Linked DNA regions of Homo sapiens: all the other regions are linked to region 1. Evidence: fine-mapped expression QTL. A gene starts in region 1. Each other region holds a variant in brackets. All regions are shown on one strand. Distances are between the middles of the regions.

Region 1 (4,241 bases):
CTGAATATTCATCTTTTTCTTTCTCCAAGAATATGAGAATGAAACTGGAATTAGTATATACTCATGCACACTCAGGTCTTTAACTTCAAGTTCAAATCTTCACAGATGAATCTTAAAGCTGTGGTGTCAAATGGACTGTTATAGTTTAAGCCTGGAAAGCCACTGACAGGGCCTGAACTTCATCTCAGGACAACACATGGTTTCTAGGGACCTCACTAACTGGGTGAAAATTATGGGAAACTCTTGAAGTTTCTCCTCTCAGTCAGACAACTACCTGCTCCTCCTGTGTCAACTGTCTCTGACTTTCCTCCAAATAGAGTGACAGAAAGCTGGGGTTGGTCTGAATGTTCTCCATTCCATTGAAGTGTGTGTTATTCAAGACAAAATTTTAGAACAGGAAGGCACCTTAGGTATCACTAATCCAAGCCCCTCGCTTAAAGGAAGTACCAGCTGTTTCCTCTCAGGGTCCTCAAGAAACCATAGACTTTTAAAGAGCAGCTATGGTTCTTAAGCCTAGTCTAATCCAGGGCTGCCAACAGTGTCACTGGCACACTACCAGATGCTGGGCGCTTCACAGTCCGTATTGGAAAGCCTACCGGAATGGCAGGCATCCCTCTAAGGCTACAAAAGTTGCCATTCTTCTTAGCTGTGGACTAGTTTTATCAAGTCAGTGGGCATCCTGCATGTCTCAGGCAGAACAGAAGCTCCAATAAGTATTTATGTGTGTCTTTGATTAACAAAGCAGAGAAGCAGGCTGTTACTATTATACTAAATGCGGTAACATAAAAACTTTAAAAACACCAGGTTCACTGAGGTGAGGAAAATACTGGAAACTCTTCAGTAAAAACATCTTCATTTTACTCAAGAGAAAACTACGGTCCATAAAGACTCTGTGCCTGGACCAAGGTTATACCACAAGTTGTGGCTGAAGGAATGAGTGGTCTAGAACCCAAGGTGCTGGGTGCTGGTCTAAGGCTACTTCTAATTTTCTCGCTGTTGCCATGCCCAGAAACCTTCCTGCTTAGACAGATTTGTGTTTTATTTTTTCACCAGCATAAAATTGTTGTATTTCTTACTACCAAACCTTCGTTTTCTCATCTGTAAAATGGGTATAAAATGGTGCTTTCCCGCATAGGGCTTCTATGGGTATTAAATATGATAGATACTGCAGTTAAAGCACTTATAACACTGCCTAGCACATACTGAACACTCAAAAAATTTCTCTTCAATGAAAACTGGAATCCAACACTTCCCCAACATATAACTCACTGCAAGATTCCCTCAGTTGGGAGCTGTGGCAGAATCTGATAATGACCTCATCAACATCCAGTCTCTCATTCATCCTTAGATAAAAAACCGCGGTATAACCGGAGGGAGGGCCATGCCCAGCTAAAAGAATACACTTGGCAGCCTCCCTTGAAACCAGGGTAGCCAAAGCAAGGAAGGGAAGTTGGTAGACAGTGCACCCAGGAAATCTTTTAAAAGATTTTATGAGGGGAAAAAAAAAAAGAAACAGAAATGTGAAGCTCATGGTAAGTTAGCGGCAGGTCTGGAGTTGGAACTCTAGGTTTCTGACTTCCCCAGGTGTCCTTCCCAGATCCTTCCCCAGTGTGCCAGCATCTTAAGCCCACTCCGTGGCGAGCCCCTACAGCTAGCAGCCGCTACCAGTTCTTGCTTCCTGTGTGCCAGGCATTGTGCACACGAACACCACAAGAACCTTGTGAGGCCTCATTACCTGCCGCTCACGTGGGACCGTTATGTTTACTCGCTCAAGGTCACAACAGTCAGGGGCAGAAGAATTTTCGCTCCGATTCTGAAGCTGAAGCTGTTACCTTCTCTAGTCTTGAGACCAAAGGAATGCGAGATAGTGAAATAACAAGGATTTCAACACGCATTGATGTACTGTACAAAAGGCCGTGTGCTGAAAGTCTGGAGACTAGGGTCAGCTGTGCCAGTGACAAGCTGTGTGACCCTGGGCAAATCAAAACCTCTCTGAGTTTCGGTTGCTTCTGTAAAACGAGGGAATTGGGCGACTGGATCGCGCGGTTGCTTCTAATTCTAAAATTACAAAATGTCCAACTGCCAGGCGAGAGACTACGGAAGCCCAGTAAGACAGGAAGGGCGGGCGGGGCCTGCCCGGGAGACCCCAAAGCGAGAAAAGGGAGCGCCCGCCCCAGTGGGCCTCGCGGTGCCGCCCGGGCCAAAGAGCGCGCCCTCAGGGCAGCCGCGAAGCCGGGGAGCGAGCACGCACGCGCGCGCCGCCGCCGCCGGTCCCGGGTTACCTGATAACGCTGCCGCCGCCGCCTCCCCGCGCACGGGCAGTGTGGCCAGGGGCGGCAGCCAGAGCAGCAGCCACCACCGCCCTTGGCGCGGCCCCATTTCGTTAGGGGTCAGCTCCGTGCGACCCGAGCCCTAGGGGACCGGCTCCGCTGCGAGGAGCGGAAGTGGCGCGGGGGCTCAGAGAAGGCGGAGGGGGCGGTGAGGCCCGAACGCGGGAAAGGCGGAGACCCCGCCTCCCCGGGGCGGAGGGAGAGTTGGGCTCGTTGCTCCAGCCTCCGCCCGCGGCCTCGGGGCACGGCGGGCCCAGGCCGGAGGAGCTTTCGGTGGCGCGACCCCGCTGGCATGCTCCCGGCCTCGGCCTCGGCCTCGGCCTTGGCCTCCGGGCCTCCAGCGCACGCGGGGCGTCCAGGGCCTCATCTTCCCCTGGGGACCGCCCGGCCGTGTCCCGCTGCCCTCGGCGCAGGGGTGGGAGTTGCAGAGAGGAAGAGTCGCTAACCCGGAGTGTTTCTTAAAACTTGGCTGACCTGTGACCTGCGGATTTGGAGGCTGAATTCTCCGAGCACCTGTGAGTGACAGCCCGTGAATGGGAAGGTCCTTCGGCAAACGCCCTTTTTGTGAATAAAATACATAAAAGCCAGTTTCTTTATTTTACCTTTCTGTTTATCTTTTTACTTTCATTTGGTAACAAGCAATAACAAATTGGAAATTTGGCCGCTTAAGTAACACTGACTTGTATGTCTAATCTCGGACACGGCATTTCAGAGTACAGAGGGGCTCGTAAAATGTTCCTTCACCAACATGACAAGGTTCTCTTAAAATTACCTTATGTTAAAAAAAAGTTTCTTAATGTAATAGATATATTTTTAAATTAACATATAACCTGAATGATCTTAATACTGATAATTAGGAGATATACATATATTTTAAAGAACATTCCCTCCACAGGACCTGGAACCCATTAATTTGACTCAATATTCCATACTTAACTAGGACAGTCTTCTCTAATTCTGGTCTTTTGGTGAGATATCTTAGAGAACCCAAAGTAACAGAAATTATCCTGTTAAAAATAGATAAGCCTCATTTTTCCTAAAAGTCTGAGTAGGATGGACTAGGCTTTCCTTGCCCTCAAAGAAAGGTTTAACCAACTGCCCTTAAGCACTTGGCACCATGTGTACACCATGTATGGCTTTTAAAAAGTTAAGAAATTTCCTTGTAAGGGACTCTTCAGAGGGATGGTTTTTAAAAATAAACCATCATTACTTGAGTGAAGCCTGTCTTCAGAGAAACAGCAGAGCCCTGATCCAATTCTTTCCTGTATTCCCAGGTGCGGTGTGCACTTGCTTCTTGCAAGACAGCTTTTGTACCTAACCACATTCATTTTGATTTGGTTTAATTTTGGATGGCACTATGGAAAGTAGCTAAAATAAACAGGTGGGTTGTTGAATGATGAATGTATTTTCTACAGATATATCTGGTGGAGAAACAAAAGGGCAGGCAGCAATGTACTAAATATTTAAAGTGCTATTTATATCACAGATCCTTAGTAAATATCTGTAAAGAAGCTATATTGAAACACCACATTTTTCTCTATAAGCAATAAATATTTTTCCGGAGATAACAAGAATGTTAGGAGGTGATAGTTCTGTCACTGGGGGACAATCATGAAATTCCACTTAACCTCTCCAAACTTTTCTTCTGTATGAAAACCTTATCCACTGGGGGAAGGGCAGGAAGCTTTACCACCAACAGGATCCTGGCAAAGACCCCCTGCTTCTGGAGAAGAGATAGAAGCACAAACCTTCTGCCCTTTGGGGAGCAGCAGGAGCAGGAAACACTAGGGCTCTGTGTCCTGAACCAATAGAAAATTGAAGTTGGCTACTGCTGGGAAACCCTCTCTCACTCAAGACTCACCACAGATAAAGGAAGGATTTGGCTGCAATGGGAAAGTGTCAGGAATACTG
Region 2 (4,241 bases), 58 kb before region 1:
TATAACAAACTGTCTCTCAGACCACAGTGCAATCAAACTAGAACTCAGGATTAAGAAACTCACTCAAAACTGCTCAAGTACATGGAAACTGAACAACCTACTCCTGAATGACTACTGGGTACATAAGGAAATGAAGGCAGAAATAAAGATGCTCTTTGAAACCAACGAGAACAAAGACACAATGTACCAGAATCTCTGGGACACAGTCAAAGCAGTGTGTAGAGGGAAATTTATAGCACTAAATGCCCACAAGAGAAAGCAGGAAAGATCCAAAATTGACGCCCTAACATCACAATTAAAAGAACTAGAGAAGCAAGAGCAAACACATTCAAAAGCTAGCAGAAGGCAAGAAATAACTAAGATCAGAGCAGAACTGAAGGAAATAGAGACACAAAAAACCCTTCAAAAAATCAATGAATCCAGGAGCTGGTTTTTTGAAAAGATCAACAAAATTGATAGACCGCTAGCAAGACTAATAAAGAAGAAAAGATTAAAGAATCAAATAGACGCAATAAAAAATGATAAAGGGGATATCACCACCGATCCCACAGAAATACAAACTACCATCAGAGAATACTATAAACACCTCTATGCAAATAAACTAGAAAATCTAGAAGAAATGGATAAATTCCTTGACACAAACAACCTCCCAAGACTAAACCAGGAAGAAGTTGAATCTCTGAATAGACCAATAAAAGGCTCTGAAATTGAGGCAATAATTAATAGCTTACCAACCAAAAAAAGTCCAGGACCAGATGGATTCACAGCTGAATTCGACCAGAGGTACAAGGAGGAGCTGGTACCATTCCTTCTGAAACTATTCCAATCAAGAGAAAAAGAGGGAATCCTCCCTAACTCATTTTATGAGGCCAGCATCATCCTGATACCAAAGCCTGGCACAGACACAACCAAAAAAGAGAATTTTAGACCAATATTCCTGATGAAGATAGATGCAAAAATCCTCAATAAAATACTGGCAAACCGAATCCAGCAGCACATCAAAAAGCTTATCCACCATGATCAAGTGGGCTTCATCCCTGGGATGCAAGGCTGGTTCAACATATGCAAATCAATAAATGTAATCCAGCATATAAACAGAACCAAAGACAAAAATCACATGATTATCTCAATAGATGCAGAAAAGCCTTTGCAAAATTCAACAACCCTTCATGCTAAAAACTCTCAATAAATTAGGTATTGATGGGACATATCTCAAAATAATAAGAGCTATCTATGACAAACCCACAGCCAATATCATACTGAATGGGCAAAAACTGGAAGCATTCCCTTTGAAAACTGACACAAGACAGGGATGCCCTCTCTCACCACTCCTATTCAACATAGTGTTGGAAGTTCTGGCCAGGGCAATCAGGCAGGAGAAGGAAATAAAGGGTATTCAATTAGGAAAAGAGGAAGTCAAATTATCCCTGTTTGCAGATGACATGATTGTATATCTAGAAAACCCCATCGTCTCAGCCCAAAATCTCCTTAAGCTGATAGGCAACTTCAGCAAAGTCTCAGGATACAAAATCAATGTGCAAAAATCACAAGCATTCTTATATACCAGTAACAGCCAAACACCCAAATCATGAGTGAACTCCCATTCACAATTGCTTCAAAGAGAATAAAATACCTAGGAATCCAACTTATAAGGGATATGAAGGACCTCTTCAAGGAGAACTACAAACCACTGCTCAATGAAATAAAAGAGGATACAAACAAATGGAAGAACATTCCATGCTCATGGATAGGAAGAATCAATATCGTGAAAATGGCCATACTGCCCAAGGTAATTTATAGATTCAATGCCATCCCCAT[G/C]AAGCTACCAATGACTTTCTTCACAGAATTGGAAAAAACTACTTTAAAGTTCATACGGAACCAAAAAAGAGCCCGCATTGCCAAGTGAATCCTAAGCCAAAAGAACAAAGCTGGAGGCATCACACTACCTGACTTCAAACTATACTACAAGCCTACAGTAACCAAAACAGCATGGTACTGGTACCAAAACAGAGATATAGACCAATGGAACAGAACAGAGCCCTCAGAAATAATGCCACATATCTACAACTATCTGATCTTTGACAAACCTGACAAAAACAAGAAATAGGGAAAGGATTCCCTATTTAATAAATGGTGCTGAGAAAACTGGCTAGCCATATATAGAAAGCTGAAACTGGATCCCTTCCTTACACCTTATACAGAAATTAATTCAAGATGGATTAAAGACTTAAATGTTAGACCTAAAACCATAAAAACCCTAGAAGAAAACCTAGGCAATACCATTCAGGACATAGGCATGGGCAAGGACTTCATGTCTAAAACACCAAAAGCAATGGCAACAAAAGCCAAAATTGACAAATGGGATCTAATTAAAGAGCTTCTGCACAGCAAAAGAAACTACCATCAGAGTGAACAGGCAACCTACAGAATGGGAGAAAATTTTTGCAATCTACTCATCTGACAAAGGGCTAATATCCAGAATCTACAAAGAACTCAAACAAATTTATAAGAAAAAAACAACCCCATCAACAAGTGGGCAAAGGATATGAACAGACTCTTCTCAAAAGAAGACATTTATGCAGCCAACAGACACATGAAAAAATGCTCATCATCACTGGCCATCAGAGAAATGCAAATCAAAACCACAATGAGATACCATCTCATACCAATTAGAATGGCAATCATTAAAAAGTCAGGGAACAACAGGTGCTGGAGAGGATGTGGAGAAATAGGAACACTTTTACACTGTTGGTGGGACTGTAAACTAATTCAACCATTGTGGAAGTCAGTGTGGCGATTCCTCAGGGATCTAGAACTAGAAATACCATTTGATCCAGCAATCTCATTACTGGGTATATACCCAAAGGATTATAAATCATGCTGCTATAAAGACACATGCACACATATGTTTATTGCAGCACTATTCACAATAGCAAAGACTTGGAACCAACCCATATGTCCAACAGTGATAGACTGGATTAAGAAAATGTGGCACATATACACCATGGAGTACTATGCAGCCATAAAAAATGATGAGTTCATGTCCTTTGTAGGGACATGGATGAAGCTGGAAACCATCATTCTCAGCAAACTATTGTAAGGACAAAAAACCAAACACCGCATGTTCTCACTCATAGGTGGGAATTGAACAATGTGAACACATGGACACAGGAAGGGGAACATCACACACTGGGGACTCTTGTGGGGTGGGGGGAGGGGGGAGGGATAGCATTAGGAGATATACCTAATGTTAAATGACGAGTTAATGGGTGCAGCACACCAATATGGCACATGTATACATATGTAACAAACCTGCACGTTGTGCACATGTACCCTAAAACTTAAAGTATAATAATAATAATAACAATGCATTAAACAGGAACTGCAGGTAAGAATGATTCAATAACAAGGTAATATGCAACACAGTTCTTAGGATTTCCCACCTCTGGTTCCTGTTCTATCCTGACCTGGCTTAATTGCTTTATTTATTGGTATGCTACAGTGTGCAGACTCTATAAATAAAGATTTGTATACCTACAGAAAAGAAATGACTATATATTATAATAATACATGCATATAACTTTTTTATCCTTTTAGTTTAAAATGAGTTAGGTGGAAAAGGACGGTTTCCATAAGTGACCCAAGAAAAGAGAACATCCATGAAACGGTTAAAGAACAACAGAATAATTTTATAAGAGGAAAAAACAAATGCTGTGTGAATTTAAAAATGCATTTTCCTGTTAATTTATTAAAGATATATTAAATGGTGACTAAGAGCCAGGCAGCATGCTGGGTGCTGAGAATGTAATAAAATATATACATATATTAACTCAGGCCACAAGGTCTCACCAACTGTTCTGGAAGCCAGATGTGTAAACACATAATAACTATACAGCATGTTAGATGGAATCATAGAAAAATGTGCTAGGTAGCAGATAAGGAGCTTACCCTAAGGAGAATAATTAACTTTGTGAAGCAGGGAGTGGGAGGATGAAGACTGTATTGAAAAATTCCCTACAAAAATCACATAAGCTAGATTCTGAAGGGCGAATAGGAATCTACCAGGTGGTCTAAAGAGAGTAGGCATTCCAGCATGGGGGAAGAGCTGTGTGCGAAGGCACAGAAGAGAACAGAATGGCCTCTTCAGGGAGCATAAGTGGTGTGCCGGGGCTAGGGCTTGAAGCATTTATCATCTCAAGCTGCCAACCCAGGACATGTTTTTATAATACTTGTATGCACCT
Region 3 (4,241 bases), 27 kb after region 1:
GTGTCCAATGCTAGAGGAAGGTCTGGTAAGACAAGGTCTAGCAATTAGGAAGCTATTATATTCTCAGAGTTAGCAACAAAAAGAGGTGGTGGTTTAGGCATGCAGTTGTGAGGAGAAGGGTGGTAAACATAGCAGGTATGTCCTGGGAGGTGAGTGGAGAGGAGTATCCTGGCCCCTGGCAGCAGGTCCAGAAGTAGGTGAGGTTTGGCTGCTCCAGGGAGGTAGCTGGCACCCGGGAAATCTGTCAGCCATTGCAGAGTTGCAAGCTTTGCTCTGGGATTCAGATGCAGATAGGCAGTATCTAAAAGGAGGAGGTGAGTGAGGCAGAAGCTCAGTCCTAAAAGGGTGGCAGTTCTGGTCAGGTCTCCAAGCCTGCAGCTGATGCACAGGGATTTAGGCTGGTATCAGCTCTGGTGTGCAATGTGTGGGCCAGACTCAGGACATAAAGCAGAAGACCACTTGTAAGTACTGATGCAGAAGATCAGGGCAAAAATGAGAAGCCAGGTGAGTTGCTGTGTTAGAGATAAAAACTACTTCCATTTCTTCAGCCTGGAAAGAGGACTGATTTAAGGTAGGAGCCCGTGGGTGGGAGTCAAGCAGTTTTGCTGCTGGGATAGGAATGCTTCAGAGGGTTGAAAGCAGTAGGCAGAGGCAAATCATGAATGCAGTGGTCTCCAGGCTGGTGTTCATCACTAGATCACACTTCTTTTTTTCTTTATTCAACTGCCTATATGACTAGCTTCTCAAATGCTCATCGGTTTTAACATCTCATTGTTCTCTCATCTCAGTGTGTTAAATACAATTTCTATATCTACTCATTTCTACTTGCATGTTAGTCATTTTATCTTTTTTAAAATTATACTCTAACAGCATACATAATGTAAAATTAAAGAAAATATGACATTTGTCCTAATTATTTTGGATCACCTTCTTTTAAAAACAAACTGAGCATCTGGATTAAAATTTTGTACATCTGAACCAATATGCCACTTGATCTTAGGTGATACCTTCTTTTTTACCTCAACAAATATTTATTGAGAGCCTACTCTGGACAAGGAATTTATTAACTTCTAACCAAAAAATGTTAATTAGTCTGTTGTTTGAAGTGCCATCGACTTATTGTGCATTTGGTTCATTCATATAACATCCTCAAGGTGTGTAGGAAGATTAGCCACTTTGACTCAATCCTGTAAACTGTAAGCTTTAATGAGCTGAGCTCTGGGTAGAATTAGAAATACAAATACCAGTTTTTATATCTCAGGTTACTTTTAAATATCAAAATACTGTATTTGTTGGTACAATATCATTAGATTAGTATATCTAACATCAGAAATCAAAACCATTTATGTTTTGAGAAATACTCAGAGAATTTATACACTATGTTAATATTTCACGTGGAGCAGAGGTGTGCCCAGTGCTTCTTCCTCGAGGACTAGGAGAGATATGGAGCAGTGGGAAGGAGGTTCCTAGGCCCCATTACTACCTTCCCATGCTGGGGCTTGATGCTGTCTGCTCCCATCAGGACCGCTCATTCTCTGTGGCCTTCCCTCCTCTCCTAGAGTAATTTATTTCAAACAGGCCCTTCTTCTCCAATCATCCTACTTGAGAAGAGTCAGGAAGTAGGAGAGAGAAACCCCTGTCTTGGACCTTAACCCTGTCTCAGATAGGGAACACCTGGGGACAATGTGTAGCAAATAATGAAAACTATGTGTATTGGCCTGCTCGAGCAAGGGTGGCTTAAACAACAGGAAATTTATTTTCTCACACTTCCAGAGGCTAGAAGTCCAAGATCAGGATGTCAGCAGGTTTTTCTTCTGAGACCTCTCTCCTTGACTTGTCTTCCCCTTCTGTCTTCACGTGGTCTTTTTCTATGCAAGTCTATGTCCTAATTATAAGGAAACCAGTCAGTTTGGACTAGGGCCCACCCCTAATGACCTCATTTTACCTTAATTACCTCTATAAAAGCTCTGTCTCCAAATATAGTCCCATTCAGAAGTCCTAGGGTTTGGATTTCAACATACACTTTTTAGCAGAGGGGATGGGGGAGGGAGGTTGGTGGGAGAGGTAGGAAGAGTTCAGTCCATAACACCATATATGTCTATCTTTTTAAAAATCAAATACAGGCATTTATATATTCTGCAAAATAAATGCCAAAATACCAGTACTGCAATTAATGTCACAGTTATTCTCATAACATAATGAGCTCAGTTGCTTAATTGCATGGTAGAAAGGTGGATTTTCTATTTTAATGGCCCCTGGAAGAGTCTCAGAGGCTACCAACTTTTAAAATTTTTTAAAATAAGAGGATCTTAATTTTTATTTTACTATGTAGTTACTGTTGCCCATCTGTTTCATCTTGCCCTTGACTGGATATTCTTAATACATAGAAATGTAAATGAAAAGCTAGTTTTCAAAGGGTAATTAAAGGACTTTGGTAAAAAGGAAGAGAGCAACCAGAAATATTTGATTTAGGATGACCTGGATGACTGAAAAGAGAAAATCCAAATAGTTTTTTCCCTCTTTGGGTAGTCGACCAAGAA[G/A]TAAGCTCAGCATCTGAATTAGCTCAAAGGGAAAACAGACCAGTAGAAATGGGGTGTGAACTCCATAGCTAAGCTCTGGTCTGATAAAGTGACTTCCCAGCCAGGAAGCTCACACTGTTACACAGTGAGCTAAGTGTTCCCAGTCCCTCCCATCTGCCCATAGATATGTACAGCAGCACCACGGTGGGGCTCTTTCTATTCTGCAACCAGCTGTGCCAGCCCATAGAGTGCCTCACTTCTCCATGGAGCATTAAGCACTCCCTAGCTTCTTCCTCCAAGTTTCTGCATTACATCTCTCCCTGGAGGCTGCCATGGGTTGGGGCTGGCACCTTTGCATTCCATCCATGTTTGCTTATTGATGGATCAATTGATTGATCAGACTTTACAGATTTCCTATCCCACCCCTTGGACAAGTCCTTTTAAGCTCTCTAAGTATCAGTTAATTCATTCTGCAAAATATGGGAAAATATGTAAAATATGGGAAGATGGTCTCTATGACTCTTTTTTGCCCTAACTTTATATAAATCTATGCTACAATTTCAGATTTTAAGGCATATTTTTTTAAATATCATGTATAGCTACAAAAGGAACTATAAATGCCATCGACTAACACATAGGGAAAGAAAAGTACCCTTTTCTTCCTAGGGTCTTAAGGCTTATTTTAGATGGGAAATTTGAGTTTACCTCAACCTTGAGTTTTCAACTCATTCCCCTGCTCTGTTTTGGGCCACTCTTGTTTATAGAGGTAACTCTGAGATCACCCTAAAACTATGTATAAGCTGAAATATTCATTATCAATGTCAGTGGCAGGTTCTCCTCCAGTGATCAGGCTATAAAACACAAATATAATTCTGAAAAGCAAAATTTTATAAACACAAAATGACTATCTGTATGATAGCATTATCAGCAAAGCTTTGCTCTTCCTCTTCTGACTAGAATTTCTAATTAATTGTTTTCTAATGCTCTTTTATACAGCCCTGTGGAATGTTTCCTTGAGACATTCACATATGCAAGGTGGCTTTGTGCTGTGTTCTCCTGCCACCCACTCATCACCCACACGCACCTGCCCTCCTGCTCCCCGCTGACTCAGCGGCCCAGCCTCCTCCCACACAGGCCCAGTGACCCGGCACCCACTCAACCACCTTCTTGTTTGTTCTCCCACAAACCCACCCACTCATCTTCTCTCCTTCACGCAGGTAGACGTTTTCACACTCCCACTGCTCAGCAGACAAAGCTCAAGAATGTGCTTTGGGCGGTAGTGGCGGGGTGAGGGAGAATAATTTTTTTCTAATGACCATTATGTTTTTTTCCTTGATCAACAAGTTTATCCACAAATGAGTAGTTGATAAACAGTCATTTTTATGCTTAGATTATTTTTTCAATACTTCCTCTACTCAATAATTGGATTTTCTATTTTTGAAAACTCTACCACAACGTATATGTATACACTTTGAGCATTGTAACTTGTTTCAGTGAAAACACACTCCCCATCTTTTGTCTAAATTGAAATATTTCACTCACATTTTGAAGTGAACGGGTGCACCAATGAGATAATGGCTTATTGGGATGGTTATTTGTAATGATGGTGTCTGAGCTATAGCTGGAATCAATAGGCTGCCTGACAAGATTAATTGGCTGTGAATTATGCCAGAGCAATTCCAGAGCCAATACCAGAAACAAGGGCCAGCCCACTCATCAAAG

Evidence for each region. PIP is the estimated chance that this variant, and not a neighbour inherited with it, causes the effect.
Region 2: its variant is the best candidate, but not a certain one, in a credible set for the expression of NEMP2 in whole blood (TOPMed, PIP 0.86).
Region 3: its variant is the best candidate, but not a certain one, in a credible set for the expression of NEMP2 in tibial artery (GTEx, PIP 0.53).

The regions. Positions count from the first base shown.
Region 1 is chr2:190,532,277-190,536,517 of GRCh38, forward strand. It overlaps NEMP2 (nuclear envelope integral membrane protein 2), which reads right to left and starts at 2,446. Exons shown (of 9, transcript NM_001142645.2): 1 at 2,283-2,446. The coding sequence starts at 2,379. NEMP2-DT (NEMP2 divergent transcript) reads left to right here and starts at 2,562. Exons shown (of 5, transcript NR_183903.1): 1 at 2,562-2,845. RefSeq lists a silencer at 2,110-2,759.
Region 2 is chr2:190,473,852-190,478,092 of GRCh38, forward strand. The region is part of intron 4 of MFSD6 (major facilitator superfamily domain containing 6); the gene reads left to right. It also overlaps a transcript of NEMP2 not described here. Among named protein-coding and RNA genes, the nearest start is that of NEMP2, 59 kb to the right of the region's middle. The variant G/C (reference allele first, on the strand shown) is at 1,819.
Region 3 is chr2:190,559,624-190,563,864 of GRCh38, forward strand. All of the region lies in intron 1 of NEMP2-DT (NEMP2 divergent transcript), which reads left to right. It also overlaps a transcript of NEMP2 not described here. Among named protein-coding and RNA genes, the nearest start is that of NEMP2-DT, 27 kb to the left of the region's middle. The variant G/A (reference allele first, on the strand shown) is at 2,541.